7 linked regions of the Homo sapiens genome follow. The protein of the gene in region 3 interacts with the protein of the main gene of each other region in a biochemical or structural test. Each region holds a gene or a part of one and is shown on either strand. Other genes may lie near its edges. The genes, in order: FRMPD3, HTRA1, SSTR5, LIMK2, RADIL, MPP7 and MAST2.

Evidence for each region.
Region 1: the proteins of SSTR5 (region 3) and FRMPD3 interact in a test that uses a peptide from one of them, tested with the Homo sapiens proteins (one large-scale study listed by IntAct).
Region 2: the proteins of SSTR5 (region 3) and HTRA1 interact in a test that uses a peptide from one of them, tested with the Homo sapiens proteins (one large-scale study listed by IntAct).
Region 4: the proteins of SSTR5 (region 3) and LIMK2 interact in a test that uses a peptide from one of them, tested with the Homo sapiens proteins (one large-scale study listed by IntAct).
Region 5: the proteins of SSTR5 (region 3) and RADIL interact in a test that uses a peptide from one of them, tested with the Homo sapiens proteins (one large-scale study listed by IntAct).
Region 6: the proteins of SSTR5 (region 3) and MPP7 interact in a test that uses a peptide from one of them, tested with the Homo sapiens proteins (one large-scale study listed by IntAct).
Region 7: the proteins of SSTR5 (region 3) and MAST2 interact in a test that uses a peptide from one of them, tested with the Homo sapiens proteins (one large-scale study listed by IntAct).

What each region holds. Positions count from the first base shown.
Region 1 is NC_000023.11:107,561,152-107,564,651, reverse strand, and holds part of FRMPD3 (FERM and PDZ domain-containing protein 3), read right to left. Parts: intron 1,542-3,500; coding exon 1,452-1,541; intron 1-1,451.
Region 2 is NC_000010.11:122,464,553-122,468,052, reverse strand, and holds part of HTRA1 (serine protease HTRA1 precursor), read right to left. Parts: intron 1-3,500. UniProt on the Homo sapiens protein: Serine protease with a variety of targets, including extracellular matrix proteins such as fibronectin. HTRA1-generated fibronectin fragments further induce synovial cells to up-regulate MMP1 and MMP3 production.
Region 3 is NC_000016.10:1,078,851-1,081,954, forward strand, and holds the end of SSTR5 (somatostatin receptor type 5), read left to right. Parts: 5' UTR 1-18; coding exon 19-1,113; 3' UTR 1,114-2,604; downstream 2,605-3,104.
Region 4 is NC_000022.11:31,218,798-31,222,297, reverse strand, and holds part of LIMK2 (LIM domain kinase 2), read right to left. Parts: intron 1-3,500. UniProt on the Homo sapiens protein: Serine/threonine-protein kinase that plays an essential role in the regulation of actin filament dynamics. Acts downstream of several Rho family GTPase signal transduction pathways.
Region 5 is NC_000007.14:4,873,717-4,877,216, forward strand, and holds part of RADIL (ras-associating and dilute domain-containing protein), read right to left. Parts: intron 1-3,500. UniProt on the Homo sapiens protein: Downstream effector of Rap required for cell adhesion and migration of neural crest precursors during development.
Region 6 is NC_000010.11:28,296,565-28,300,064, forward strand, and holds part of MPP7 (MAGUK p55 subfamily member 7), read right to left. Parts: intron 1-3,500. UniProt on the Homo sapiens protein: Acts as an important adapter that promotes epithelial cell polarity and tight junction formation via its interaction with DLG1. Involved in the assembly of protein complexes at sites of cell-cell contact.
Region 7 is NC_000001.11:46,030,612-46,033,616, reverse strand, and holds part of MAST2 (microtubule-associated serine/threonine-protein kinase 2), read right to left. Parts: coding exon 2,856-3,005; intron 2,611-2,855; coding exon 2,327-2,610; intron 2,227-2,326; coding exon 2,032-2,226; intron 1,440-2,031; coding exon 1,213-1,439; intron 1,022-1,212; coding exon 899-1,021; intron 1-898. UniProt on the Homo sapiens protein: Appears to link the dystrophin/utrophin network with microtubule filaments via the syntrophins. Phosphorylation of DMD or UTRN may modulate their affinities for associated proteins. Functions in a multi-protein complex in spermatid maturation.

The sequences.
Region 1 (3,500 bases), on a different chromosome or scaffold from region 3:
CAGGTTGAGTAAAGTGCACAGGCAGAAGGGCTAGCTCAAGCAAAACCGTGAAGTAGGTGAGGTTTGTTTGGGGGCCTTTGGAGCACCCTCCCCTTCCAAGCCCCAGGGGCTTTCCATTTGTTGCTGCAGGCCATTTGAGGCCCCCACCCAGTGCTCTGCCTGAGAAGGCGGCATCCTGTGTCTGGTCTTTACCCTCCCCCCACCAACAGCCACTCAAACTTGCACTTCTCACCCAGGCCAAAAACTAAACTGGCACAGTAACTCTGCCTAAGGTGTTGAGGGTTGATTGGGTACTTCATGGCAGCCTCCCTCGTTAAGCAGAGATTTGCCTTTTAATGGGCACTCCAGCAGGTATGGCCAATAGAAATTTTAGCAGTGGTAGGTGGGTGGAAGAAAGATTTGACAGTGTATGAAGGAGGTGGGAGGGGACAGTGGGCTTTCAGTGTTCTGCAAATCCCAGTATGTAAATGGCTACCTCTCGGCCTGAAGGACTGGATTCCCTTAAGAGGTCTTGACAGATTCCTTGGAGCAATCAAGCTTGGGTCGTCTGGAGGCCCATTCCCTGGTATTAGCATCACCCTGAGGAACCTCTTGTGCCTGTCTATAGGCACTTTGATAAGTGGCTTTCCACCGATGTGCCGCACTAGCTGACAATGTGCTCCTGGGAGCAAGACAAGCACCTGGATCCAATTAGCAAGGTGATTTGAATTTCCTTTCACCAGGGTAAACTAGCCTGGGGCACAGTCTTAGGGTGGGACCAGCTGTGCCCTGCCCCAGAGCCTTGTTCCTGCAGCAAAGGTGCTGAGCAAGCAGGGGGAGAAGTAGAAGGACTCAGGAAACCTAGGGTAGGGGACTGTGGGAGTATGTGGAACAAAAATGAAATAGAGCAGGGGTTGCCTAACCATGGCCCATGGGCCAAATACCACCCACCACCTATTTTTTATGGCCCAGGAGCTAAGAATGGTTTTTAGATTTTTTAATGGTAGGGAAAAAAAATCAGAAGAGGCATGTTTTGTGACATGTGAAAAGTACATGAAATTCAAATTTTCGTATCCATAAATAATTATTGGTAAACAGCCACACCCATTTGTTTATGCATTGTCTGTGGCTGCTTTCATAATCTGACAGCAGGGCTGAGTAGTTGCCACAGTTGCCAGTATGGCCCGCCTGCAAAACCTAAAATATTTACTATCTGGCCCTTTATGGAAAAAGTATGCTGCGCCCCCAAATCGAGGAAGAGGAACAAAAAAAGGTCATGGAGGGATACTCAAAACAAATATCTCCTCCCACTTTATCATTTTGGCAGAGGCAGGGCCAGGGAGGTAAGAGGTAGAAGGAGGAGGAAGAGGAACGAAGGCCTTTAGAAATATTTGCCCCTCCTGCCCCCACACCCAAGGACAAGAGCCAACAAGGGGCTCCCTCCCCACATCCCCCAATCCTGCGCCACTGACCAGGCCTACAGTGTTGAACAAAACGCCCGTGAAGGTAGGAAGTTCATTCAGAATTCGTAGATACTGGAGCTTTGCCTGAATTGCAGAGCCCTGTGGAAAAACCCATCCAGAAATATGAGAAGCCTGAGGGGCACAGGAAAAGCAAACCCATGTTCTCAACGAGGAGTCTCAACATCCTAGGACAGGCACCAGTCAGCAAGTGACACTGTGGAGATGTGAAGATGCCCTTCTTAAAACAGCAGCAAGGTTCTAGTTTGGACAGCTCTTCCCTCTAGTATCTCATCTCCCTTTCTAAAATCTTGTCCTACCTCCTGATCTTCATTCCTAAAGTATCCAGCTTACTCATTTTGTTTTTGGTTTAATTCCAACTAACTGACGCCCCACCTAATCCATACCTCTCTCCTGAGATGTTTCAGACCCCTAGAGTCATGTACATGCTGGTCATTCCCCAGCTGGGGGTCCCACTCAATACCGTTCATACTAAGCATTCCTAAGTCCCAAGCCTGCACTTCAGGCATTCCTGGTCTATATCAGCATCCCCTGGGCAATCAAGCCAGAAACCTGTGAGTCACACTGGACTCCTCCTTAATCGCCTCATGTGAGAGCCAGCAGTTACCAGATCATCTGGATACTTACCCCCTAGCTCCTTTTCCAATCTATCCATCCCTCTTCTCTAGCCAGTCATTGCCTTGACATTCCCACCTGTGTCAGGGTGACAGCCAGGTTACCTTCAGGACTGACACTTGTTTCCCTCTTTCCCTCAAGTGCCTCCACACTGTTAGAGGGAGCATCCTAAAACATAAGTTTAATCACATCAGCTCCCTGCTTTAAACCCTTCAATGGCTCCCAGCTGCCTAGAGGATGAAGTACAACCTCTTTCCTTGGCACACAAGGCCCTCCATGAACTGGCTCCTGCCAACCTCTCTGGCCTCTTCTCTTGCCCCTATCTTCACCCCTTGCACACAGCTTGCATTTTCTGTACTTGCTTAGGCTGAATGATTTGCATTTCTGTCCTTGCACCATGGTTTCTCATATCTCTGGGCCTTTGTACAGATGGATCTCTCTGCCTGGGAAACACTTCCTCCCATGACCCATGCCCACGGATTAATCTAGACAAACTCTTATCTGTCTTTCAAGACCCAGCTCTGGCCTTTTCCACCTCCCTCAGGCTGGGCTTAGTGTTCTTCCTCTGTGCTTCCAGAGCACCTGTGCCTAATGCACTGTGTTGGGACTGACTAATGTGTTTCCCCATTAGACTGTGCCTGACTCAGGGGCCAAGACCAGGCCCTCTTCATCTTCATATTTCCAACCCAAGCACTGGGGTGCCTCGAAAAAAATGTTACCTGAGGAGATGGTGGTGAGCACTGATGCTCTCAGTTGAGAAGAAAACAATCTGATTAAATATTCACAGCAAGGTGGGAATGGCTTAACTCTCCGGGGAAATTTGCATCTTAAAAGAGAAGCTAGTTGGTAATGCAAGAAATCTGGAATGGGAGGAATGTATGGGGCGATTGCGTCCCATATGTACATCTGCATGCTGATTCTAGTGCGTCTCACCACTCTCCTGCTTCTAGGGCAGGAAGCACAGGCAGATTGAATCTTACAAAGCTAAGAAGCTGCTGCGGGGCTTGGGAAAGCAGACAGTGGGAGTCCCTCAGAGCACTAGAAAGTGGAGGCAGTAACCTGATCCCTCACCATTCCACCCAGTGACCCATTCTCCAGGTCAGGTCTTGTGCCCCCAACTCTCCCACTTTCCCCTGGGCTGGGGTTTTGTCTCCCAGAATTCCACACCCTAGGACTGATGAATTAGAGGTACAGAGGTACATTTCCTTTTTTTACATTTTTTTTAAATTATTTTTTTAAAAGTAAAGACGCTGTCTCACTATGTTGCCCAGACTGGTCTCAAACTCCTGGGCTCAAGTGATCTTCCTGCTTTGGCCTCCCAAAGCGCTGGGATTACAGGCATGAGCCACCACACCAGCCTAGTCATTTCCATGGAAAACATGTGCCTCCCTAGGGTCCAGTGCTTTCCACATGATACATGCTCAG
Region 2 (3,500 bases), on a different chromosome or scaffold from region 3:
ATGAATTTAGAAATGGAACTCTCAGCACTGACTCCAAAAACTGAACTCTGCATCTTTCCGGCAGTGATGGACATGCCTCTTCGCAGCCACTTACTTCTGTCCTGAGGCGTGTTGTCCTGGCTAATGTCCCCCTGTGGTTCTAGGCACACGTCACCAAGTAGTGCTGAATCACTGTAACTTCCATGCCACTTCCAGGAGCCTTTTGGAAACACATTCAGAATGGCTACACTTCTCGGTTTCTCTATTAATAGGATTTTTCTCTTTCTTCTTTTTTTTTTAACGGCAGAGAAGGTGGAGAAGGAAAAGATGAAATGACACAAGGGTATCTCACTTCAGATGACCCAAAGGCCTTGGAGCCCCAGGGAAGGAGCAAGGGGTATGAGTCTCGTGGAAGCTCATCTCTTGGAGATGAACATGTCACCCCTGTGGTCTCCCGGGGACTTCAGCAGCCAGTACAAAGCTGAAACACAAAGCAACCAGGCTCAAGATGGATCACATCTATTCGATGCCAGCCTTGGCTTTAACCATCAATAATTTAGGAAAAAGAAGTAGCTCATAAGGAAGCCTCCCCAGGCTTTAAATTAGGAATGAGGTGACCACAACCTCCTCAAAGACTTGTTTTCTTAGAAAAATCCCAGACCATTCTAGTTAAAAGGAGCCTCAGAGATCAACTGGCCCAATCCCCTCACTGCCGAGGCTCCGAGAGGTCGAGGGAGCTGTTACCTGGTCAGGTAACACCCCAGGAAGGGCCAGAGCCGCTTGCCCTCAGCCCCTCCGCCCCAGTTGGCCTTCCAAGGAACCCTCACCCACTGCCAAGCTTACTTCTTCTTCAAATTAAGCCTGACCAGAGCTATTTATTCACTTGAAATATAAGCTCATGGAAAGTCTGATTTCTGAATCCAAGGCATGAAACTCATCCAGGATCACACAGCTCCAAACGGAGAATCCAGCCCCAAAGCGGAGGCCATCAGGCTTCTGACCACAGTTAGCTCATGGTGCCCGCCACCATCACTTACTCAATGCAGTTATTTTAAGTTCCAATGCAACCCATTTACAGCTCTCTCAGTGGAATGAAGTAACTCAAACACTTGGTTTTTGAGCTTGTTAACTTCCTAATTTTATGAAGCCTTAATATTTTAACTCTTTAGCAAAACCAACAGAGCAATAAAAGAAGGCAGCCGACCAGAGCAGGCAGAGACTCATAAACTGCTCAAAAGACCTCCAAGTTTCCAAGTTTCAGGTGACTAAAAGCTGGAGACTCACAAATGTTTCCACCCACCCTGCCCTAAGATGAAGCTCAGGTCCCTGGCACACTTGTTTTTTAACTGACAAAAGGTGTATTTGAATTGCCAATAGTGAAAATGACTCTCGAGCAAACTGCCCACTTTAACAATGGAAAAATACAACCCCAGGGAAGCAGTGATTGTATTTTCCCCCATTGTATTGAATATAAGTTACCTGTGGGCAGTGACTTTGTTTTATTCAACCCTGTCTCCCCAGAGCTCAGTACAGGGTCAGCACTCAGCTAGCAATGATTGCTTGTTTGAGGTTCCCACGAAAGAGTCACCTAAATAAAGTACATTTTGGCACGGGTGCAGTGGCTCACTCCTGTAATCCCAGCACTTTGGGAGGCCAAAGCGGGCGGATCACAAGGTCAGGAGATGGAGACCATCCTGGCTAACACGGTGAAACCCCGTCTCTACCAAAAAATACAAAAAAATTAGCTGGGCGTGGTGGCGGGTGCCTGTAGTCCCAGCTACTCTGGAGGCTAAGGCAGGAGAATGGCATGAACCCGGGAGGTGGAGCTTGCAGTGAGCCGAGATCGCGCCACTGCACTCCAGCGTAGGCGACAGAACGAGACACTGTCTCAAAAAAAAAAGTAAATTTTACAAACATTCCAGGGCTCCAAGAAGTAAAGCAACCATCTAAGCCCTTGGTTCTTCACCAGGTATGTACATACAGCCTCTGCCTTTAGAGGCTCTGGGGTGAGACCAGGAGCAGGCGATCCTAAAAACCTCCAGGGGTGGAGTTTCTGGGCACCCCTGCAGCTTGCAGACCTCCAAGCTTGTCTGGGCTGCTGCATGGAGTAGGGTGGGCTTTCCTGGAGGATGTACTAGCAGGAGAAATGGATGAGGCTTCTGCTGTTTGGGAAGTCTGTTTCAGGTCTCGTTCCTGGCTTCTTGTCCATGTTTTAGCAGAGGTCCGGAATCCCGGCTGGTCTTTTGGGACATGGGGGAATCTGGAAGGGCTTTCTCTCTTCAAGAGCAGTTTGTCTGGATCTCTGGCTTGGAAACAGCCTTCCTACAGTCCCTCGGCTCTTTTTGCTTTTCTTTAGTGAGGGCTGCACTGACGGCAACTGGAGGCAACCTTGTCTTCAGGCTCCTGAGCCTGCAGAGTGAAGGCTGTGATCTGTCCTGTTCCATCTCTAAGCCACAGCCATCTGGAGCCCTGTTTATTTCAGCTATTAGCTGGGGCTTAGCTGGGGTTGGTTTAAAATCTCTGTTGCTCTGTCAACAGCACAGCATGGTGGTTATGAACGAGGCTCTCCATCCAGTTGTGTGGGACCACCAGTCCTGAGCAAGGTACTTCTCTGTGACTTAGCTGCCCAGCTGTAACCCAGGGAAGACTACAGCACTCACTCATAGGACTGTCCGGAGGATCAAATGAATTAGTATGCACCCGGCATAGAATAAGCACAACATATATGTTAGCCCTCATTATTAGTACCCTATTAGTATTTCAATTCCTTTCTTTTTTGTAATCATCTGACCAGTACAGCTGGAGATGACAGATCTTTGTTCTCTAGCTGAATTGTATACTTTCCCATCCAAACCCTGCCAGTGCATTGACTTCTGAAATAGATGATTTGCCTTCATTTCCAGAGCGGTGAGCAGAGATGTTCTCTGAGGTCTATTCAATAAACAGCTTACAGATGAAAGTGCTTTCCTTTGAATGGTGACATGTTCCTCTATCCAAAGATCTACTGTGACCCAAAGTGCTAGTCACCTCCCTGGGGACCCCTGATCTGATGACATTTCTACCTCTCATCCCCTGGCATGCTCTGCCCCAGACAAAGCCACCTTATAATATTTGAAATCGCAGCACCCGCTCCTGCCTCGAGAGCTCTGTCTCCAGATCCGTGTATGACTTGCTCCAACTCCAGGCCTCTAGTCAAGTGGCACCCCTAGAAAAGGCTCATGTCCATGGCAGCTAAAGTGACTCTCCCGCCAATCTTCCAGCCAGAGCAGGCAGCCAATTCACCTCATTTAACAGTGACGTCAAGTGACCTGCCCGTGGGCACCAGCTGTTGAGTCCTGGAGCCTGGCTTGGACTGAATGAAGTCTGCTGGCTCCCAGGCGCCTGTCCTCGGAAACACCTCCGAAAAGTCAAGGGTGGAGTGTGAGATCCAGAGAGGGGGCGCAGCAAAGCAGTGCCTTCCACTAAGGAAAAACAGAATGGCTGTGTATCGCAAGCACCTCCCGTTTGTCTTCATTCATTCA
Region 3 (3,104 bases):
CACCCCAGGGCTGCCGCCATGGAGCCCCTGTTCCCAGCCTCCACGCCCAGCTGGAACGCCTCCTCCCCGGGGGCTGCCTCTGGAGGCGGTGACAACAGGACGCTGGTGGGGCCGGCGCCCTCGGCAGGGGCCCGGGCGGTGCTGGTGCCCGTGCTGTACCTGCTGGTGTGTGCGGCCGGGCTGGGCGGGAACACGCTGGTCATCTACGTGGTGCTGCGCTTCGCCAAGATGAAGACCGTCACCAACATCTACATTCTCAACCTGGCAGTGGCCGACGTCCTGTACATGCTGGGGCTGCCTTTCCTGGCCACGCAGAACGCCGCGTCCTTCTGGCCCTTCGGCCCCGTCCTGTGCCGCCTGGTCATGACGCTGGACGGCGTCAACCAGTTCACCAGTGTCTTCTGCCTGACAGTCATGAGCGTGGACCGCTACCTGGCAGTGGTGCACCCGCTGAGCTCGGCCCGCTGGCGCCGCCCGCGTGTGGCCAAGCTGGCGAGCGCCGCGGCCTGGGTCCTGTCTCTGTGCATGTCGCTGCCGCTCCTGGTGTTCGCGGACGTGCAGGAGGGCGGTACCTGCAACGCCAGCTGGCCGGAGCCCGTGGGGCTGTGGGGCGCCGTCTTCATCATCTACACGGCCGTGCTGGGCTTCTTCGCGCCGCTGCTGGTCATCTGCCTGTGCTACCTGCTCATCGTGGTGAAGGTGAGGGCGGCGGGCGTGCGCGTGGGCTGCGTGCGGCGGCGCTCGGAGCGGAAGGTGACGCGCATGGTGTTGGTGGTGGTGCTGGTGTTTGCGGGATGTTGGCTGCCCTTCTTCACCGTCAACATCGTCAACCTGGCCGTGGCGCTGCCCCAGGAGCCCGCCTCCGCCGGCCTCTACTTCTTCGTGGTCATCCTCTCCTACGCCAACAGCTGTGCCAACCCCGTCCTCTACGGCTTCCTCTCTGACAACTTCCGCCAGAGCTTCCAGAAGGTTCTGTGCCTCCGCAAGGGCTCTGGTGCCAAGGACGCTGACGCCACGGAGCCGCGTCCAGACAGGATCCGGCAGCAGCAGGAGGCCACGCCACCCGCGCACCGCGCCGCAGCCAACGGGCTTATGCAGACCAGCAAGCTGTGAGAGTGCAGGCGGGGGGTGGGCGGCCCCGTGTCACCCCCAGGAGCGGAGGTTGCACTGCGGTGACCCCCACCCATGACCTGCCAGTCAGGATGCTCCCCGGCGGTGGTGTGAGGACAGAGCTGGCTGAAGCCAGGCTGGGGTAGACACAGGGCAGTAGGTTCCCCACCGTGACCGACCATCCCCTCTAACCGTCTGCCACACAGCGGGGGCTCCCGGGAGGTAGGGGAGGTGGCCAGACCGGTGGGGGGCTCCGCCATGCCGTGCAAGTGCTCAGGGCCGCCTCACCCTCCATCTGGCCCCAGCCCATGCCGGCCTTCCCTCTGGGGAGCGACTTTTCCAGAAGGCCGGCCAGGCGAGAGGGTCTTCCTGACGGCGGAGCTGACCTGCCCGGCCCACCAGCTGCATGTCAGCTCCGAGCCACCGGGTCCCCGTCCAAGGCTGCTCTGCTAAGTTAAAGACACCCGAAAGCGCTTGACTCAGGTCCCCGGAGTCCCTGGCCAGGGCCCCAGCCCCTCGCTTGCCCTGCACTGTGTGGACTCTGGGGATGCAGGTGTAAGGGGAGTGTGGCTGGGCAGCCCCTGGTCAGCCAGGGTCACGCCTGTCCTGGGGGCCCCACCCTGCTGCCCGACACCCCCCATGGGAGGCTGCGGGCGGCAGTTGCTGTCTCAGAGAGGGGAGTGTGGGGGCTTGGGCGCTGGCCTAGCCAGGGGCGAGGTGGGGAGGCGGCTGGTGCAGAGGAGAGCTGGGGGCTGAGGTTGGGGTGAAGGCTGCAGCCCTCCAGGCTGCTGGGGGTGCAGATGGCTGTGCCGTGCTGAGATTGGCTCTGTCTGGAGGGGTCCAGTGTGGGGTGCCTGAGGGCACTAGGGAGAGGTGCTCCTGCTGCAGGAGGACCTGAGGGTCAGGGCTTGGAGAGGACAGGGAACCTGCGGCCGTCTCTTCTGCTTTGGGGCAGGGGCTCTGGCCCGGGAGAGGGAACGGGGACAGGAGCAGAGGACGGTCATCCAGGCGCAGCGGGGAGCTGCTCCCCAGGCCACAGCAGACAGCACTGCTGAGAGGCAGCGGCCGCGCGGGTGACGCAAATGGCAGGCCCTGGGAATCCCGCCGCCTCCCACCTAGAATTGTCCTACCTCCCCCACCCCAAACACCAGCTTTTCCTGGCGCCCCAGGCCCAGAACGTGGGCCCAGAGAGCCTTGCTGGGGTCTCTGGGGCACCTTGGCCTTGCTCTGAGGCTGGAAGGAGAAGGACCAGGGTGCGGCATCACTCGGCCTCAGGGACCCCTCTGCCCTGCCCAGCACTGGCCCCGACCCGTGCTCCCGCCGTCTGCCCAGAGCAGGACCTCAACCTCCTGGAGGGCACAGGGAGCGGCTGAGTGGGCACAAATCCTGGCAGGAGAAAGGCCCAGGCTGAGGCCAGGCCTGGGAAACATCCAAGCAGTGAGGACACGCGTGTTTGACAACTGCTCCCCTGAATAAATGCGAGGATAAATGTTTGATTCTTTCCCCGAGCAAATATTGTCCCTGGAGCCGAGTGCAGCCAGCGCAGAGTGAGCGGAGCCTGGGCTCCCCCGAGGCCCGACACAGGGCCCGCCCCCGGCCCCAGCCCCGCTGAGCCAGACAAGGCCGGGACGGGGGCGGCCAAATGCCCAGCAGGAAGCGGGAGGCGTGGAATTCGTGAACAGGGTGAAAAATGATGGAAGCTGCCTGGGGTCTTAGGCTGGAGCTGCCCCTCACAGCTTCTTGACAGCTCTGGGCGGGGCAGGGTGGGCTTCTGCAGGGGGTCCACAAATCTCTGCCTCTTGAGTCACCAAAGAGGGGTGCATCCAGGGTGCACTGGGGGAAACCGAGGCCCGTTCACACCGCAGCACCCCCCTCGACCTGCCTCCCCAGGGATTTGGGTGCCATGTTCACCCTCTCAGAAGGCTTTGGGGACCGAGCAGATGGCTCGGAAATCCCTGCCAAGATCAATTTCTCCAATTGATTTGACACCGGGC
Region 4 (3,500 bases), on a different chromosome or scaffold from region 3:
GGAATTTGAGACCAGCCATGACCAACATGGAGAAACCACATCTCTACCAAAAATACAAAATTAGCCAGGCATGGTGGTGCATGCCTGTAATCCCAGCTACTCAGGAGGCTGAGGCAGGAGAATGGCTTGAACCCGGGAGGCAGAGGTTGCAGTGAGCTGAGATCTCGCCATTGCACTCCAGCCTGGGCAAGAGTGAAACTCCAACTCAAAAAAAAAGAAAAAAGAAAAAAAGTTGTCTACACATCGCTGCCCTCATTTCCTCACTTCCCACTTTCTGCATAATGCACTGCAATCTGGCTTCCACCCCCACCATTTCTCTGAAACTGTCTCACCAAGGTCAACAGTAACAGTAACTGCTTATTGCTAAATTCAATGGACCCGCTTCAGTCATTCTTTCAGCAAATATTTATTGCATGCCAACTATGCATCTGACACTGTGTTGGGGAAAGAGGAGCAAACAAGAGAGAGATTAAACACAAAGCAAATATTAAACAATAATATAATTATTTATTGAGGGCCGGGCGCAGTGGCTCACGCCTGTAATCCCAGCACTTTGGGAGGCTGAGGCAGGTGGATCACAAGGTCAGGAGTTCGAGACCAGCCTGGCCAATATGGTGAAACCTTGTCTCTACTACAAATACAAAAATTAGCCAGGCATGGTGGTGGGCGCCTGTAGTCCCAGCTACTCAGGAGGCTGAGGCAAGAGAATTGCTTGAACCTGGTAGGCGGAGGTTGCAGTGAGCCAAGATCATTCCACTGCATTCCAGCTTGGGCGACAGAGCGAGACTCTGTCTCAAAAAATAATAATTATTATTATTATTTATTTATAATTGGGGCAAGTGGTACGAAGATATCAAGTTCATAACTAGGAAAAGGGCGGGCGGCCAAAGTATTCCTTGAGGAAGTAATTTCCAAGCTGAGCTCTAAAGGATGAATACAAATTAACGGGGCAAAAAAGGGGGGAAGGAAGGCTAACACTGGAGAGGGGGGACATGTGCAAAGGCCCTGGGGCAGGAACAAAAACTTCTCACACATCATTAAAGTTGGCTTTTGCTACCTCCAAAGGGCTAGCAAACCATGTCTGGCCCCTGGTCTGCTACAATCCTTCAATAAACAGTTACTGAAAGAGCAAATGGTCCTTACAATGTGGTCCCAAAGGACCCTTCTCTCTCACCATTCCTTACAAAAGAATGCTCTAGTTACATTTTGACCTATTTTCTATTCCTGCCACTTTTATTCATGTACTTGCATCCTGACATTCACACCTCCAGTTATTCTCTATGTATAAGCTTCTCTATCTTTTCCCTTAATCAAAAAAAAAATTTTTTTTTTTGAAACAGAGTTTTGCTTTTGTTGCCCAGGCTGGAGTGCAATGGCACAATCTCGGCTCACCACAACCTCCGCCTCCCAGGTTCAAGTGATTCTCCTGCCTCAGCCTCCCGAGTATAGCTGGGATTGTGGGCATGCGCCACGACGCCCGGCTAATTTTGTATTTTTAGTAGAGACGGAGTTTCTCCATGTTGGTCAGGCTGGTCTCAAACTCCCAACCTCAGGTGGTCTGCCCACCTCGGCCTCCCAAAGTGCTGGGATTACAGGCGTGAGCCACTGCTCCCGGCCCCTTAATCAAATTTCTATCCTTTCTTTAAAGTTCCCTAAAATCAGGCAGTGTTTGTTTCATTTTGTCTATACCTATTTTACATAATTTGTTATTTAATTACAGTTCACTGCATATGTTTCTCTCTCCTTCAGTCCCTCTCTCTCCACTCTCCTCCCCCACACCCCATTCAGAGAACTAAGGTGTAAGAACTGTATCTTTATTATGTTCTTATCTCCAGGGCCTAACCTTGGGCCTGGTGCAAAACAGACATTCCTTTGTGTGGTGAACCCAACTGAAAATTTGGATCCAACTGCCAGCTATAAAAGCAATTTCCAAAGATAAGTTCCAAAGGTCAGCACAGATGATTCCACTGGAATAACTGTTCTGGCTCCCAGATTACCTATGAGTAGTCTCATGTGGATAAACCTGGCCTCAGTTTACCTGTTATGCATTCACACTGCTTTTCTGTTAGGAAGTACCTGAGCAAAGATATTCACCCAAAGCACACAGCCTCCTACGCCCAGACCCTCTTCAAGAGAACACTCTTGACTTCTTTAGCTCTCTTACAGTCTTAAAAATTCATTGATCTATTCTCTTACCACCTTTATTCTAGGAAATGTAAAAGAAATGTAATACTGTAATGCAAAGTCTTAGGGATTTCTGTGAAGCCTAGTGGAGGATCAATCCAAAGTCCAGTCAGCCTGGGAAGTTCTTTCTTAAGAAAATATCTCATTGTACCAGGCTGTTCATTCTCTCCCTCTATAGTGTTTACCTCTCATATTTGCAGACTTATCAACAGTGGCTACTGATTGTTAAGAGTCCAGAAAAGAGCCGGGCGTGGTGGCTCACGCCTGTAATCCCAGCACTTTGGGAGGCCGAGGCGGGTGGATCACGAGGTCAAGAGATCAAGGCCATCCTGGCTAACACGGTGAAACCCTATCTCTACTAAAAAATACAAAAAATTAGCCGGGCATGGTGATGGGCGCCTGTAGTCCCAGCTACTCGGGAGGCTGAAGCAGGAGAATGGCATGAACCCGGGAGGTGGAGCTTGCAGTGAGCCGAGATCGTGCCACTGCGCTCCAGCTTGGGCGACAGAGCCAGACTCTGTCTCAAAAAAATAAAATAAAATAAAAAAAAGAAGAGTCCAGAAAAGGAGCTTGATTTAAGTAAATGTTCACAGTACCTTCAAACAATAAAGGACCCTTATTAGGTGTTTAATAAACAGAAAACTGTGTTTTCAGTTATTATTGGAATTTGTTGCTTTTAATAAGTGCAACTGTGCAACGTAAGGTGAGCACTGCAACAAATGTCTCATTATAGGGGTTCTCACCTTTAAGACCTTTTCAATCTTGGTATAAAATACATTCACTTTACATTCACTTTATGAATGCTTCTCTCTCCCAACTTAATTAGCAATGTGGCCCTCAAACAAATGTGAATCCACTGGGGCAGGCGCCAAAAAAAAAAGAAGGAAAATAGACTTGCCTAACCACCACAAAGCTACTGAAAGATGGTCCAGGAGGGATTCAAACCCATGCTCAGAGACTACCATGCCAGTCATATTTTTAATACCCTATGCAGCCTCAGACAAGTTGAGACTTGCTCAAGAACACACAGCTATTCAGTGGAAGGGTTGGCCTGGTATCCCAGCTCAGAGCCAATGCAGTCCCCACAATGTTCACCTTAAATTTGGTCTAAGAGCTTGGTTTCTGCAAATGAGTCCTTTTTAGGCTTCAAAATGGTGAGAAATCCTCAAGCACTGAGAGCTCATGAGACTCTAATGCCTAGCTTAAATCAACATCCTATCCTTTCATTTAAAAAAATCTTTGAAGCTTCTCACGTTCCACCAGACAACGAGAACCAGGAACAAAACTCAGCCAATTCAGTGCAGCATAAAACAAGT
Region 5 (3,500 bases), on a different chromosome or scaffold from region 3:
AACAGACACCACAGCAGCCCCATCGGTGCCCAGGGAGGCGCAGGACAGGCGGGCTGCTGGAAGGCGCAGAGCTCACCATCACCGGAGGTATGTAATGGAGAGGACACGGTGGGTGTTAGGAAAGCCTCCCCACCACGATTCTTCCACGTCACTCCAACCTGAGGCAGGCTGGCGCCCACGGCTGCTGGAGAAGCTGCTACAGTGAAAAACCCCTCGGCTTCCCACCTCCTCCCCTTCTCTGGCTCTCAGTCGTTCCCCTTGGAGGGGCGAGGGAGGAATCGCCTAGTGCCGGCTGCAAACTCACTCAGGGGGACGTGGGACACAGCAAAGGCTCAGTGCCCTCCCCGTTCCGTGCCTCCAAGCCAGCAGGAGAGACCTCTCAGAGGCGGGTTCCAGGGATGTGCACAGAGGCCGCCTCCAACCCACGGAAAGGCCGTGCAGGTGTCTCACGCAGGGAACAGTTCCAAGTGGGAGACTGTGTGTGTGAGCACCTGTGTGGACATTTCTCTGTCCAGGTACCCATGTGTCACCACAACAACCGAACACACTCTAGCGCAAAGCTTCTGGGCGCGGGCCTGTTTGAGGCAGGGCTGTCCAGCTACAGTAAGGTCTGTGCGGGGTCATCCCCAGCGGAGCCTGGCTTATCCACGTGGGGACCCCCTGGGTCTAGCCTTCCCCCGGCTCCAGGCAGAGGCTCAATAACCGTTCTGTAATGAGCAGAAGCATGTGTGCATGCCTCTACCAGCTGCTCCATCTCAAACCACCCGGCCGCCTCAGTGAACCTTCTTGGCATGGCTGAGGGTCACAGGAGTCCCTGGGCCACAGCCAGAGAAGGTCAGCAAGGAAGGATGAGTGCCCGAGGCCCAGGGGGCCAGCTCTGGGTAGGTAACACAACCTGCTCCAGCCCAGATGAGTGTGTCAGTATGGCTGGGCAGCCTGATGGACTCTCTTTGGCAGGTTTCGAAAACCGCCACGAGCTTAGACAGGCTGTGAGCAGGGGTGCTTTCGCTCGCCCTGAATAATTTAACAGGAATGATTCCAAAAGAAGTGCATGAGCTTGGCCGGGTGTGGTGGCTCACACCTGTCATCCCAGCACTTTAGGAGGCCAAGGTGGGCAGATCACCTGAGGTCCGGAGTTCGAGACCAGCCTGGCCAACATGGTGAAACCCCATCTCTACTAAAAATACAAAAATTGGCCGGGCGCGGTGGCTCACGCCTGTAATCCCAGCACTTTGGGAGGCCGAGGCGGGCGGATCACAAGGTCAGGAGATGGAGACCATCCTGGCTAACACGGTGAAACCCCGTGTCTACTAAAAATACAAAAAATTAGCCGGGCGTGGTGGCGGGCGCCTGTAGTCCCAGCTACTCGGGAGGCTGAGGCAGGAGAATGGCGTGAACCCGGGAGGCGGAGCTTGCAGTGAGCCGAGATTGTGCCACTGCACTCCAGCCTGGGCGACAGAGCGAGACTCCATCTCCAACAACAACAACAACAACAACAACAACAACAACAACAACAACAACAAAATTAGCCGGGCGTGGTGGTGGTGCATGCCGTAATCCCAGCTATTCAGGAGGCTGAGGCAGGAGAATCGTTTGAACCTGGGAGGCAGAGGTTGCAGTGAGCTGAGATCATGCCATTGCACTCCAGCCTGGGCGACAGAGAGAGACTCCATCTCAAAAAAAAAAAAAGAAGCACGTGAGCCTCAGACAAGCTCCTGTCTCCTGCAACATGCACTCTGGCCCCACCATCCTACACTGGCAGTCGCCTATCACCTGTGAAGACGGCGGGCCTTCCCAGGGCTCCTCCTCGCCCGGTGACACACAACGCAATGGCCTGAGGACAGGCCAGGCTGATCCCCAGCCACACAGCAGCAACCCTGGCCCGTGCTCTGCAGCCCCAAGGTGGCCCTGTCCCACTCGCTTTTTGCCCGCTGCTTGGCAGAGGCAACGCATGGTGGAAGAATGACCGAAATTCTGTGTCTGACATTGAAGAGCCTTTGTTCCCGTGCAGAAAACATCCCACCATGCGCCTCCTCCCTTTCGGGTTTCCTGGCCTCACAGGAGGTCTTTTTGAATCAGGAGGGGAGGGACCCCATCTCTGCCACCGGATCACCGGTCCTTCCAAGGGACCACTGGATCGTGACATGGCAGGGTCAGGATGAAAACCAAATCCCAGAAGTGGCGACCTCTGGGTGGAGGAAGGATCCCCAGGTGCAGGCAATTGGGGGTGCTTGTCTGAGCAGACTTTAAGAGCCATAATTAAAGCAACCACAAGTTACTCTTTTTATTGTTATTTTTTTGAGACAGGGTCTCACTCTGTTGCCTGGGCTAGAGTGCAGTGGTACAATCCTGGCTGCAGCATCTGCGGCTCAAGCCATCTTCCCACCTCAGCCTCCTGAGGAGCTGGGACCATAGGTATGCACCACCATGCCTGGCTAATTTTTTTATTTTTTGTAGAGATGGGGCCTCACTATGTTACCCAGGCTGCTCTCAAACTCCTAGGCTCAAGCGATCCTCCTACCTTGGCCTCTCAAAGTGTTGAGATTACAGGTGTGAGCCACCACACCCGGCCAAATTTATTTTATTTATTTATTTATATTTGAGACTGAGTTTCGTTCTTGTTGCCCAGGCTGGAGAGCAATGGCATGATCTCGGCTCACTGCAACCTCCGCCTCCCAGGTTCAAGCGATTCTCCTGCCTGAGCCTCCTGAGTAGCTGGGATTACAGGCGCCTGCCACCACGCCCGGCTAATTTTTGTATTTTTAGTAGATACGGGGTTTCACCATGTTGGCCAGGCTGGTCTCCAACTCCTGACCTCAGGTGATCCACCTGCGTTGGCCTCCCAAAGTGCTGGGATTACAGGTGTGAGCCACCGCGCCTGGCCAAAATTATTTTTTATGACACACACCTATTAAGATAATCAACTTCTTTCCACCAATTGAATAAATCACCAGACACAGTGGGCCCCAGGCCCCGGGGCTCTCAAACTCTGCGGCAGGCACTCAACGCCACCCGTGCTCTCGGCACTCCTCAGACCGACAATGATCGGCTGCCCGTGGCCAGGCCCTCCTCAGGAAGGCCTCCCACCACCCAGGCACCCACAGACCCGCGGTACGCTGAGTGCACCGTGGTCACCTCTGGAGACCTTGCAACCCGGCAATGCCACGTAGGTTTTGGCCTGGGACAGATTCCTTGATTGTCTTTTCACTTCATTGCCCCAAAAACTCCCCGACAAGGTCGCAGGTGCTAAAGGACTTGGAGGGACCCTGTATTTAACAAGGCGTGCGTGGTTGCTATGGTCAATGAGATGACTGCTGGAGAGCTGGACAATAATCTGATCAGACAAAAGAACAGATGTGGCCTCAAATATTGCAAGAATATATCAGGAGCCTCTGAGGAACACCAGCCAGCCTCCTGCTGCGTAGACAAACTACAACTTCCCAGACAGCTGAGGTGAAAGTGGTGAGTTTAAGAGGAAACCTTTGGGAGGCCAAAGTAGG
Region 6 (3,500 bases), on a different chromosome or scaffold from region 3:
ATCGCAACTGCTATGTATTTTCATCTCCCTTCTCTAACAATCAGTAACAAGCAACCCAATCAGTAATAAACAAGCCTGACAAATAGCTCCTAAATTCACAGAGAAAAGAATGGTCTCCTCTCTTTCATAAGTAAAGCAAGCTGATAATGTTCTAGTAAATAGAAAGACTAAATGCCTCTTCAAGAAAAAAACATTTATATGCCTGGAAAAAACATCTTGGGTTTTTTTGTTTTTGTTTTTTTACTTAAGTATCTGTTCATAGTAGGTAGCAAATAATCTTTCCACACATATGCACTTTACCAGTTCTTTTAAAGACTCAGTAATCTAAGAAAGCAAAGCATAAGACTATGCTGAAAGAGCTAAGCCGCAGTTTACATAAAATTTAAACAAAACACAAGACATTAAAAAAATTCAACTACTCATAAATAAAGACCAATAAATCTACACTTTGGTCTGGGTTTCTGAACACAGGAAGAATCAGAGGGTTCAATAGGAGAGGTTATTTCTGAAATCGTAGGCATACCTTGAAGATATCACATGTTCCATTCCAGACCACCTTAGTAAAACTAACACTGCAATAAGGTAACAGAAATGTTTCTGCTTTCCAAGTGCATATAGAAGTTATATTTACAGTATACTGTAGTCTATTATGTTGGCAATAGCATTAGCTCTTAATTTTAAAATGCTTTATAATTTTTTTAAAATGCTAGTGATCATCCGAGCCTTCAGGGAGTCATAATCTTTTTGCTGGTGGAGGATTTTGCCTTGATGTTGATGGCTGCTGACTGAACAAGGTGCTGGCTGCTGAAAGATGGATGGCTGTGGCAATTTCTTAAAATAAGAAAACAATAAGGCCGGGCGCTGTGGCTCACGCCTGTAATCCTAACACTTTGGGAGGCTGAGGTGGGTGGACTGCGTGAGCTCAGGAGTTCAAGACCAGCCTGGTCAACAGAGTGAAACCCCATCTCTACTAAAATATAAAAAATTAGCCAGCTGTGGCAGTGTGCACCTGTAATCCCAGCTACTCAGGAGGCTGAGACAGGAGAATCTCTTAAACCTGGGAGGCGGAGGTTGCAGTGAGCCAAGATCGTGCCATTGCACTCCAGCCTGGGCAACAGAGCGAGACTCCGTCTCAAAAAAATAAAAAAAATGAAGTTTGCCACATCAACTCACTCTGCCTTTCAGAAAAGATCTCTCTTTTGGTAGCATTTCACCCACAGTAGAACCTCATTCACAATTGAAGTCAATCCTATCATACCCTGCCACTGCTTTATTAACCAAGTTTACAGAATATTGTAAATCGTTCATTGTCATTTCAACAATGCTCACAGCATCTTCACCAAGAATAGACTCTCTCTCAAGAAGCCACTTTCTTTGCTCATTCAGAAGAAGCAACTCTTCATCCATTCGAGTTTGATAATAAGATTGCAGCAATTCAGTCATATTTTCAGGGTCTACTTCTAATTCTAGTTCTCAGTATACTATTTCCACCACATCTGCAGGTACTTCTTCCACTGAAGTCTTGAACCCCTCAAAGTCATCCATGAGAGCTGGAATCAACTTCTTCTAAATTCCTGTTAATGGTGACATTTTGACCTCCTCCTTTGAATCACAAATGCCCTTAATGGCATCTAGAATTGTGAATCCTTTCCAGGTTTTCAATTTACTTAGCCAAGATCCATCAGAACAATCACTATCTATGGCAGCTATAGCTTTACAAGATGTGCTTCTTAAATAATAACTCTTGAAAGTTGAAATGACTCCTAGATCCATGGGTACAGAGTGGATGTTGTGTTAGCAGGTATGAAAACATTAATTTCCTTGTACATCTCCATCAGAGCTCTTGGGTGACCAGGTGCATTGTCAATGAGCAGCACTTGTTCAATGGTACCCTTTCTTCTGAGCAGTGGGTCTCGACAGTGAGCTTAACAGATTCAGTAAACCACGCCATAAACAGATGTACTGTCATCCAGGCTTTGTCGCTCCATTTATAGAGCACAGGCAGAGTAGATTTTGCATGACGCTTAACAATTTTTGGAATGGTAGATGAGCAGTGGCTTCAACTTAAAGTCACCAGCTGCACTAGCTCCAAACAAAAGAGTCAGCCTGGCCTTTGAGGTGAAGCACTGACTTCCTTCTAGCTAAGAAAGTCCGAGACGGCATCTTCTTCCAATATAAGGCTGTTTCATCTACACTGAAAATCTGTTGTTCAGTGTAGCCACCTTCATCAGTGATCTTAGCTAGATATTCTGGATAACATGCTACAGCTTCTATATCAGCATTTGCTGCTTCACCTTGCACTTTTACATTAGGGAAGCAGCTTCTTTCCTTAAACCTCATGAACCAACCTCTTCTAGCTTCCAACTTTTCTTCTGTAACTTCCTTACCTCTCTCAGCCTTCATCGAATTGAAGAGAGGGTTTTGCTCTGCTGGCTTAAGGGAATGTTGTGGCTGGTCTGATCTTCTATCCAGACCACTAAAACCTTCTCTATATTAGCAATAAGGCTGTTTCACTTTCTTATCATTTGGACGTTCAGCAGAGTAGCACTTTTAGTTTCTTTCAAGAACCTTTCCTTTGCATTCAGAGCTCGCTTGTTTGGTGCAAGAGGCCTAGCTTTTGGCCTGTTTCAGCTTTTGTCATGACCTCCTCACTAAGCTCACTCATTTGTAGCTTTTTGATTTAAAGTGGGAGACACGCGACTCTCCATTCACTTGAATACTTAGATGCCAATGTAGAGTTATTAATTGGCCTAATTTCAATATTGTTGTGTCTCAGGGAATAGGGAGGCCTGGGGAGAGGAAGAGAGTTGGGGAATGGCCAGTTGGTGGAGATATCAGAACATATGTAACATTTATCAGTTAAGTTCACCATATTATATAGGTGCAGTTCATGGAGCCCCAAAACAATTAGAATCGTAACATCAAAGATCACTGACCAGAGATCACCATAACAGACAGAATAACAATGAAAAGTTTGCAATATTGTGAGAATTACCAAAATATGACAGAGACACACAAAATGAACATACACTATTGGAAAAATAGCACCAATCGACTTGCAGGGTTGCCAACGAACCTTCAGTTTGTAAAAAACACAGTATCTTCAGAGAGCAAGCCTGACTAACAATTTCCTTCACTTTAAATTCAAAATGAAGGAATACCCTTTCCTTCCGAATGTATCTCATTTAACAAAATTCAAGACTTTTTTTTTTTTTTTTTGAGACGGAGTCTCGCTCTGTGGCCCAGGCTGGAGTGCAGTGGCACGATCTCAGCTTACTGCAAGCTCTGCCTCTTGGGTTCAGGCCAATTCTCCTGCCTCAGCCTCCCGAGTAGCTGGGATTACAGGCGCCCACCACCACGCCCGGCTAATTTTTTCTATTTTTTAGTAGAGACAGGGTTTCACCGTGTTAGCCAGGATGGTCTCAATCTCCTGACCTTGTGATCCGCCCGCCTCGGCCTCCCAAAGTGCTGGGATTACAGGCGTGAGCCACCATGCCTGG
Region 7 (3,005 bases), on a different chromosome or scaffold from region 3:
CAGAGTGGTTTGGGGTAAGAAGGTAGAAAACAGGCTAATCCGTCCCATTCTGCAGCCCTACCCACAGCTCAGAAGGATCCCTGGGCCTTAGTCAGGGAGGGTACTGCCTTGTGGAGAAAACTCTCTGTTGTGCCACATTCAAGTTCTGTGTGTACCTACATCTTTTTTTTTTTTTTTTAAGACAGAGTCTCACTCTGTCACCCAGGCTGGAGTGCAGTGGTGCGATCTCAGCTCACTGCAACCTCTGCCTCCTGGGTTCAAGCACTTCTCCTGCCTCAGCCTCCCAAGTAGCTGGGATTACAGGCATGTGCTACCACACTCGGCTAATTTTTTTTTTTTTTTTTGGAAACAGAGTCTTGCTGTGTCTCCCAAGCTGGAGTGCAGTGGTATGACCTCAGCTCACTGCAAACTGCCTTCCAGGTTCAAGCAATTCTCCTTCCTCAGCCTCCCGAGTAGCCGGGATTACAAGTGCCTACCACCACGCTTGGCTAATTTTTGTTATTTTTAGTAGAGTTTTGCCATGCTGGGCAGGCTGGTCTCAAACTCCTGACCACAGGTGATCCACCCGCCTCGGCCTCCCAAAGTGCTGGGATTACAGGCGTGAGCCACCACACCCAGGCATTTTTTTTTTTTTTTTTTTGTATTTTTAGTAGAGGCAGGGTTTCACCATGTTGGCTAGGCTGGTCTCAAACTTCTGGTCTCAAGTGATCCACCTGCCTCAGCCTCCTAAAGTGTTGGGATTTACAGGCATGAGCCACCGCGCCCGGCCTGTGTGTACCTACATCCATACTCGGTGTAGATGTGTGTGCACCCAACTCACCCACTCCCCTAACTGCCATCACAGACTCACAGGCTGAGGTCATTCAGGGACCATGCAGGCAGCACGCCCAGCACTAACCTTCAGGATCAGCTCTACCACCTCCGTGTGCACCAGGCCATGCACAGGTTCCCCATTGACATGGGTGATGAGGTCACCTTGACGAAGCCCTGCCTCACTGGCCGGACCTCCATCCTCCACGTGCTGTGCCAGGAAGAGAACAGTACTCAGACTGGAGCCTGAACACGAAGTATGGGGCCTGGTTCTGGACATTAAGCTGTGAGCCCCTTCACCACCACCCTTTGACCCCCGAGCAGGGACAGATGGGCTCCACAAAGGGGAAGCTGGAAGGATGATGAAGCAGGGAGACAGCAGGTCTGGATGGTCAGACATACCCACACCATATGGTGCACGGTGTAGACATCGGAGTCACCCATGTAGACGCGAATGGCCCGCAGGGTGAAGCCATACTTCTTGCCAGCTCGGTGGATGATGATGGGAGGCCTCATGCTGCCAAGGGCTGGCAAGAAGTCCCTGCTTGGAGAAGAGTCCCGGGATGATGGGTTGGACGACTGAGAATGTGGGGACATGGGGCTGGCCAACGGGGAGCAGGTGTGGTGTTCTGGAGAAGGAGAAGCCAGGACTTAGTGGGTCAGAGGGCTTTGGCCTGGCCCCTGGTCCAGTCTGTTGATGTCAGCACAACTCTAGTCACAGACAGAGCCTGAGCCTAGGTCCATTTTCCCCACAGCCCCTGACCTGTGAAGCCCTCTCCCGTGTCCAGACCCCAAGAGACGGTGGTGGTGATGAGAAATGGCAGCTAGCATTTATGTGTGTATCAGGGACTATATAAGCTTGTCATATATATTTAAATGTCACAACCTATCAGCTGGCCTCTATTATATCCACATTTTTGGATAAGAAACTTGAGGCTTAGAGAAGTTAAGCAACTTGCTCAAGGTCAAGAGCCTGTTAGTGATGGAGCCAGGATTTGAGTGTGAGCTCTCTACCCCAAAGCCTGCACTTGTGACATGGTGCTGTCCTGCTTTCTGGCACATGTATACACAACCCCAGACACCAATACACACCTTCAGAGACCACAGTCAGATCTGTGCTTAACACACACACACACACCTGCCACGTGCAGAACCCTCCCAAGGCCTAGAGATTACAAGGCCCTTCCTGTGAGTTTTATCCCAGCTCCCCAGGGGCCTCACCCGAAGGAATGAGGAGTGAGAGGGCTGTGGCTGAGGCGGACTTGATCACTTTGTTGACAGGGCGAGCAGTGCGCTTCTCTGTTGAGTCCCCAGAGAGCAGCCGGTGGCGGGCCCTACGCACAGCCAGGTCACTGATGGCCTTGGCTGTGGCTCCCTCAGCCAGCTGTGAGGTCCCACGGCCTCGGGTCTCCATAGCTGTAGGCCCAAGTAAGCAGTGAGACCCGCGATGCCGCTGAGCCTCCCTGCCCTGCAGTATCCTCCAGCTTAGGTCGTTTGGCCGCCCACTGGGCCATACCTGGACTGGAACCACTGCTCCGGCCAACAGCTTCCTCATCCAGCTTTGGCCGCTGCTCCCCTGAGTGTTCAGTGACAGGCCCAGATACCCCCTCTCCAGATGGGGGTGTCAGGACCCATATACCCTCCTGTGGTTGCCTCCTGAGGGTGCTGCTGGCCTCCTCAGGGCCCTCCGGGAACCGAGGCGCATCCAGGAGGCCTGAGCAGCGGCGTCGCACTGTCATTGGAGGGCTTGAGTCACTCTCTGTGTGGGATGACTCAGACACCGACAGCCGCTTCCGTAATCTATGAGACACAAGGCCTGGGGTGAGTGACCCAGGTGGTCCCCCTCCTCCTGCCAGGTCTCCTTAGGGGCACACAAGGGTTATAGTAACAGAACTTTCCTCCGCAGACATTCCTCCAGGAGCCACCCTTGTGAATGCCCCCTCCCTGCCACCTGCACTCCTCCCTGGCATCGGAATCTCTCCCATGATCTGTGACAATGCAGGGATAGCTGTGTCGCCCACCCTGGGTGAACTCTGGGTGCTCACATCTCAGGGGAGCCAATCACCCAGCTCCGGTCTCGGCCTTTGAGCCCTGCCAGGCCATCTGAATGGTCCTCCTTCTCCTCACTCAGGCTGCGCTTGGTCGGGGGTGGTGTCCGGCGCTCCTCGAGCAGTGAGAGCCGCTCCATGCTGCTG